Homo sapiens: one gene and its partner. The protein of the gene in region 1 purifies or fractionates together with the protein of each later gene. This does not show direct contact. Each region holds a gene or a part of one and is shown on either strand. Other genes may lie near its edges.

Region 1 (3,964 bases):
GCAGTGAGCCGAGATCATGCCACTGCACTCCAGCCTAGGCGACAAAGTGAGATTAGTCTGAAAAAACAAACAAACAAACAAACAAACAAACAAAACACTATTTTGGGCCAAGAGGCAGTGGCTCATGCTTGTAATCGAGCACTTTTCGAAGCTGGGGCAGGAGGATGGTTTTAGCCCAGGAGTTCGAGACCAGTCTGGGTAAGATAACGAGACCACATCTCTATAACAAAAATTTTTTTTAATATTAGCCAGGCATGGTGGCATGTGCCTGTAGTCCCAGCTACTAGGGAGGCTACAGTGACAAGACTGCTTGAACCCAGGAAGTTGAGTCTGCAGTGAGCTGTGATTGTGCCACTGCACTCCAGCCTGGGCGACAGAGAGATCCCATCTCAAAAACAACAACAACATCATTTCCCATCACAGTAAGAAATAAAATCCCTAGGGCACAAAGGCTGAGGAAATTCTAGTCATGGTCAATGGTTCCAAAAGAGAATTCCACATTTCTGGAAAATAGTTTATTAATTCATTATAAGGACAGATACATGAATCAATGCCTTAGCTTAACACTAAAGAGTATCATATTTGTAAGGAGAAAAAAAAAACGCTGGAAGGATAATTAAATAGTACAGCATAAACTAAATACAGACAAATAAATGAGCAAGTACTGATTACACTTGTCATGCATCAAGAAAAGGAAGATTTTTAATTGAGACTCAGAAAACTTAAGGCATCAATGGTAGGTGACAAAGGGATTAATACCCTGTAAAAGGCCAATAGATTCTTTTCTAATAAAAATACTGCTACAAAGACACAAACCTAACACTTCCAAATTACCCAGAGCCCAAATCATATATAGTGCTAGTGAGAAATGGCCACTTTCTTATCAACTGTGAGTTATAGGCAGATACCAGATTTATTACTTATTTGCTTTTGAGAAACAATTTTCCACCCAACCTAATGGGTTATAAATTGTCTCATTTGCAGCTATTTAATTTAAACCAGAACCTCAGTGCCTGTTAAACAAGAACATGAAAAATGACTATGTGGTATAATGCTAAGAGCCTACTGTTAAAACAGCCATTTAATTCAGGGCAGTTTTTTTTTCTTCTTTAAAAAAAAAAAATCAAACCAGCAAAATAAAATGAGGCTTTTGACCTTCAGAGCAATGATGAAACATACACAGTGGTGTTAGCCACAGCAGCGCTGAATGCTACAGAAATACTACAAGTGACAATTCTGTCTTTAACGAGATACAAAACCAACATTAATAATCTTTAGTGTTATCATAGGCTGGCTGAAGGAGGGGGAGGAGGTGGAAACGTAGGTGCAGACATCAACAGTGAGTGACACCCGAGTATAATAAACACAGATGCTTTCAGGGTTTGAGGAAGCCGCAACTGTGCTGAGAGACATTCCACCATTTAAAAAAAAAAAAAAAAAAAAGGAAAAATGGACTGGTTATTTCGAATTTGGCCCAGAAGGCAGAGTTAACTCTTGATGTGCCAATCAGACATCATTAGGGAGTAAAGACCCTAACATTCTATGCTCCTATGAGAGGGCTGAGGTGAAAAACCAAATAAATGACATTGTTTTCACTACACAGAAAATAGAAGTCAAGCTTGTCCCTGTGCGGCAGGTGAACAGAAAATGACTTGAGGATTCAATTTAAAGAAAAAACAAACTGAAATGAGCTACCCCTTTTCCTGTGCAAAGACCTCCTTGCCAGCACCCCAGAGGGTGAGATTCCTGTCATCCCCAATCCAGATCAAGTCAAGCCTCACAGGGTGGGAAGGGCCTCCCTGAACTCTCACTCCCCTTCTCTTCCTTTAGCTTCTTCTGGAAGAGAGGCCCAAATCATCTCCATCCAGTAAACTTGCCCCCCTGCATAGAAGGGAGGGCATCTTTTTATTCTGAGCCTCTGGATCACAGCCCCCTTCCCTGTCTCAAACATTCCCCTCTATGACTTGGATCCATCCATGGAGAACCCTTGGATCCCAATCCCAAAGGCAAGATGCAGGGAAGCCAGAAGATCTTCTCCACACCCGCACTGGGCGTGGGTGGGCTGCCTGGGGCAGGGCAAGCAGAAGCACTGAGTGAAGAGGAGGCAGGAGGATGGCAGGCGAGTGCGCGGCAGCCGCGGATACAGGAAGGGCACGGGGGCCTTGAAGCAGACATGAGGTAGTCACGTTGTTAGAGAAGGATGCAGAGTTTGAACCCAGGCAGGAGAACAAGATGACATAGTCTGGGAGAGGTGTGAGAGATAGCAGAGGAAGGAAAACAGGAGAGAGGAAAGGAAAGAGTATCTGGGAGCAGGAGAAGGGCACTGGTGCTGGGAGAGCGAGGTGACTGGGAGACAGAACACTAGAGCAGCCAGGGGCAAGGAAGGAGGGGAAGAGTGAGAGAAAGCGGATTTTCAAAACCAGGCACTTCCCAGATTACAAAATTAAATGCAGAGTTGCTCGGAGGGGAGCCAGGGCCACCCTCTCTATTTGGGCAATAAGGAGCTGGGAGGTGATGCAGCTGAAATGCCAGGCATTCAGAGCCTGCTTGCACCCAACCCAGCCAGACAGGAGAATGGGCTGGGACTGTCTTTGTCAGACAGGCATTGGAGACACTCTCAGAGTGTGTAATAAAAGGCTGGGCGATGGAGGTGGGGGCCCACAGGGCTGGGGACTGACCACTGTGGGGCACCGTTCTGACCTGGAGGACCAATCAGGCTGTAGTGACCACTGCCTGGGCCACGGTTTCCCAGCTCAACAACCAGTACGCATACATGCACTTCACACATGTGCACATCACATGTAGCTATGTCTCGTATGTCTTTCACATGTCACATGTGTATCACAAAGAGTATGGGGGGAGTGAATAATCCATGTTTTCCTCTCCCCTCAGCCAAAGCAACTTAGGAAGCTCCAAAGGGCTTGATGATGTATCTACAGGCACACATGTGGACATACACGGCCACAGGTATCGCATCCTATGTGATCCATACCTGCCTGCCCCAAACCACATCCTCTGGGAAGAGCTAGGCAGAGGAGGAGACCGGGGATCTGGGCAGGCCTGGGCTGGCTCCTAGAGGGCAGGGGGATTTGAGCTGGCAGCTATCTCCAGGGGTCTCCTCTAGCACCTCGCCTGGCTGGAGGTCCGGGTAGGAGCAGGAAGCACTGGCTGCCTCTGGCAAGCAGGTAAGTCTGTCTGGCCCGGGGGCTGCCAGCTCACACCCTCCCAACTCCCTGTCCAGCCAGGCTGCCCCCTGCCCTGGATCCCCAACACCCGAGATGAGATCAGGAGCCTCTGGAGGCAGGGGGTCCTCAGGCTCCAGGTCTTGGAGATGGAGGTCAGGGTTCCCGTTAGATGCACTAAAGTCAGAGTGGACAATGACTTCAGCCTCCACCTGGTTCCTGCAGGCTGGGGGTGACTTCTTCCTCCCATTGCCCTGATCAGAGCAGAGAACACAAAGACAAAGTGACCATTACTGAGAGTAATCATCAGAATGACCAGCGTACGTGGGGCAGAAAGTCTGACCCTCCATCAGAGTAAGTATCACATGGGAGTCGGTGAAGGATACACAGGAACTGTTCGAACCTATACAAAGGCAGGGAATGATGGAATACTTCCCATTTGCCCTCATCCAGGAGTTTCAGGAGTACCAGACTCAGTCAGGGCCTCTGGGGACAGGAGGAAGGGCTGAGCGTACTCAGGCCAGCCACACCCTCAGATCCACGGAACTGCTGTGGCCCACTTAGGTCTGGGTAGAGGAGGGGCTGTTTTCAACCCAGGTTGAAACAGGTTCCTGCAAACTGGCCTGCCCTCCACCTACTCAACCTTTGGAGGCTCCAGGGGTCTCCTGGCTAGACTTCTATCCCCAGGAAAGTTACCACCCAGGGGTCTCCAGAGAACTCATTACTTCCTCTTCACAAGCACAGAGACCCTTTCCTCCTTTCCTGCCCCTTCCTTCCAGGAC
Region 2 (3,500 bases), on another chromosome or scaffold:
TAACACCTTTAATTTATAATAATCAGTCATTATAAAAGTATCAAAATATAGACCTACATACATTTTAAGAAATGAAAGTCACCATCATCTCCAATAGCATTTCTCAGAGGTGACTTCTATAAACAATCCAGCATATATCCTGCTGGACCTTTTTAAAAAAAAAAAAATTATTTCAATAGCTTTTGGGAAACAAGTGGTTTTTGGTTACACGGATAAGTTATTCAGTGGCAGTTACTGAGATTTTGGTGCACCCACCACCAGAGCAGTGTAAAGTGTACCCAATGTGTAGTCTTTTATCCCTCACCCCACTCCTCGCTTCCCGAGTCCACAGTCCGTACCATTATTATGCTTCGCATCCTGGTAGCTTAGTTCCCACTTATAAGTGAGAACATACAATATTTGCTATCTGCTGTATCTTTCTCCAATGTCAGACACACATACAGACACAGATATCATTATATACATAGATGCTGTGATGGTCAGTATTGAGTGTCAACTTGATTGGATTGAAGGATCAAAGTATTGTTTCTGGGTGTGTCTGTGAGGGTGTTGCCAAGGGAGATTAATGTTTGAGTCAGTGGACTGGGAGAGGTTGACCCACCCTCAATCTGTGTGGGTACCATCTAATCAGCTGCCAGCATGGCTAGAATAAAAGCAGGCAAAAGAATTGTGGAAGGACTAGACTGGCTGAGTCTTCTGGCCTCCATCTTTCTCCTGTGCTGGATGTTTCCTGCCCTTGAACATCAGACTCCAAGTTCTTCAGTTTTTGGACTCTTGGGTCTACACCAGTGGTTTGCCAGGGGACCTTGGGCCTTCAGCCACAGATTGAAGGCTGCACTGTCAGCTTCCCTACTTTTGAAGTTTTGGGACTCAGACTGGCTTCTTTGTTCCTCAGCTTGCAGATGGCCTATTGTGGGGCCTCACCTTGTGATCGTGTGAGTCAGTACTCCTTAATAAACTCCATTTCATATATACATCTATCCTTTTTTTATTTTTGAGATGGCGTTTCCCTCTGTCGCCCAGGCTGGAGTGCAGTGGTGTGATCTCGGCTCACTGCAAGCTCCACCTCCCAGGTTCACGTCATTCTCCTGCCTCTGCCTCCTGAGTAGCTGGGATTACAGGTGCCCACCACCACGCCCAGCTAAGTTTTTGTATTTTTAGTAGACATAAGGTTTCACCGTGTTAGCCAAGATGGTCTCGATCTCCTGACCTCATGATCTGCCCATCTCAGCCTCCCAAAGTGCTGGGATTACAGGCGTGACCCACCGCGCCCGGCCACATCTATCCTATTAGTTCTGTCCCTCTGGAAAACCCTGGCAGATGCTCTTGAGTTGTTTTTACAAAAATGGAATTATTCTGGGACTGTATACTGAACAATAAAACGTGGAACCATTTTTCCATCTCAGTGCATAAAGATCTATTCTACTGTTTTTAAAAGCTGCTAGTTCTCATATGTACTATTTAACCAATTCTTTACAGACAGATACTTTAATTGTTTCCCATTTTGCCATTATAAAGCAATGCAGCTACAAACAGTCTTGTGCAGAGCTCCCTTCTGCAAACTAAACCTCTAGAGCAGCGGTCCCCGGTCTTTTTGGCACCAGGGACTGGTTTCCTGCAAGACAATTTTTCCATGGGCTGGAGGGTGGGGGCGATGGTTTTGGGATGAAATTGTTTCACCTCAGATCATCAGGCATTAGATTCTCATAAGGAGCACGTACCCTAGATCCCCCGCATGTGCAGTTCACAATAGGGTTCATACTCCTATGAGAATCTAATGCTGCCACTCATCTGACAGGAGCCAGAGCTCAGGCTGTAATGCTTGTTCACCCTCCGCTCACCTCCTGCTGTGAGACTGGGTTCCTAACAGGCCACAGACCAGTACTGGTCCATGGCCGGGGGCTTGGAGACCCCTGCTCTAGAGGCAACATTATCACTCTGCCAAAGGACTGCACAATTTTTTTCTTACCTTCCCTTCATCAAACTATCCCCTAGAAATGTTTTGCCAGTGAGTGTTCCCATGAAGAGGGCTCAAGTGCACACTTTTTGCACACCTTTGCTGACACTGGTTTCTACTCACATGGAACACCTATGATCATATGGCTGGGCATGGGTTTTCTACCTTGTAATTTTCTCATACACGTCAAGGCTGAACTGTTACAACACTGAGGGCCCACGGTGGCAGAGAGTGAGACACACAGAAAGTAGAGAACGACCCACAGTTTTCCTGAGTTCAACAGCTTTTAGGAAAAAGAGAGGGCAAACAGCTGTCTTGGGGAGCTCTGTTTGCCTTGTGCAACACTATTTAGTCCTCATCTGAGTTTCCCAAGGTTTCCCCAGGCCAGCCATCTGCAAATAGCATTAGTGAAAATCTGAATAATTTCCTTCTAAATACATGTATTCTATGTCAACTCTATTATTGGAGTAAAAGAAAGCAGAGAACTGTAGTTAATTTAAAACTAATCTACAACTTGCATGCAAATATATTTGAGTGTTTATATTTAAACACAGTGTCAAATATTTAAGGAATAATCAAGCCATACAATTAAGCCACTTGTAAATGAGATCATTTAAACATAGTGCTCACCAATTGCCAGGCACAGATTAAGCACTAGATAAATATTGGTCCCTCTTCCCCTTCCTCTCCTAACTGAGTTCCCCATCTGCTTCCCCCATTCCAACATACTTTCACGTCCCAGCAATCTACAGGGGTTTCAGGCTGATCATAACTGAAATGGAGAGTGAAGGCCAAGGAAATAAGGAAGGTCCCAAACCAGGCAGAAAGCTTTGTCAAGAAACTTCCTACTCTAAATGTAAACACTAGATAAATATTAGTCATTCTTCACTTTCCTCTCCTATCTGAACTCCCCATTTGCTTCCCTGTCAGGACAGAAAGCACAGCTTTTGTTTTGTGTCAAGGTTGAAGCAGAGTGGACCTGTCCAAGGTTTCCTGACAGTGTGTCATCAGCCTGGCTTAGATCTTGTACTAGATGGAGAGTGTTGTTTTAATGAGTGGGGAAAACAGATGAGAGAGTCACTTTCGTAGCTTCCTCCCACTCAACTCCTGCTGTGACAGACACAATAAATGGCAAGTCAAGGTCCAGATGGGGAAATCCAGCACACCCTCTTCTGCACCCCAACTCTCAGTCTGATTGCTCGTAAGTGACTTGAAGTCAGTTCAATGTCTGCTGATTTTGTTTAGTGTGCAAAGTTTATTGCCATACATCCTGAATTTGCCTTCATATCCCTTCTTGTGTGGGTAAAACAGTGCTCTGCCTACCCAAACATGAGACTGTTAGAGCTATGCAAATCCAGGGAGCTCTCCCAACACTCTACAGCACAAAGCCTCTGCAACTTTCACATATTCAAACTCTATGCAGGGGTCTAGGCAGAATATGAACTCTCAAAGGCTCATTGTTAGCTTGGAGAAAAAAGGTTACGAAAATTATTTTTATGTTCCAGTAACTTACAGTTGTTTCAAGAGAGTGAAGCCCAAAGAA

The links.
Region 2: the proteins of IGDCC4 (region 1) and DPY19L1 purify together in Homo sapiens (affinity purification with mass spectrometry; one large-scale study listed by BioGRID and IntAct). This does not show direct contact.

The regions. Positions count from the first base shown.
Region 1 is NC_000015.10:65,380,984-65,384,947, forward strand, and holds the end of IGDCC4 (immunoglobulin superfamily DCC subclass member 4 precursor), read right to left. Parts: intron 3,437-3,964; coding exon 3,026-3,436; 3' UTR 501-3,025; downstream 1-500.
Region 2 is NC_000007.14:34,932,986-34,936,485, forward strand, and holds part of DPY19L1 (protein C-mannosyl-transferase DPY19L1), read right to left. Parts: intron 1-3,500. UniProt on the Homo sapiens protein: C-mannosyltransferase that mediates the C-mannosylation tryptophan residues on target proteins.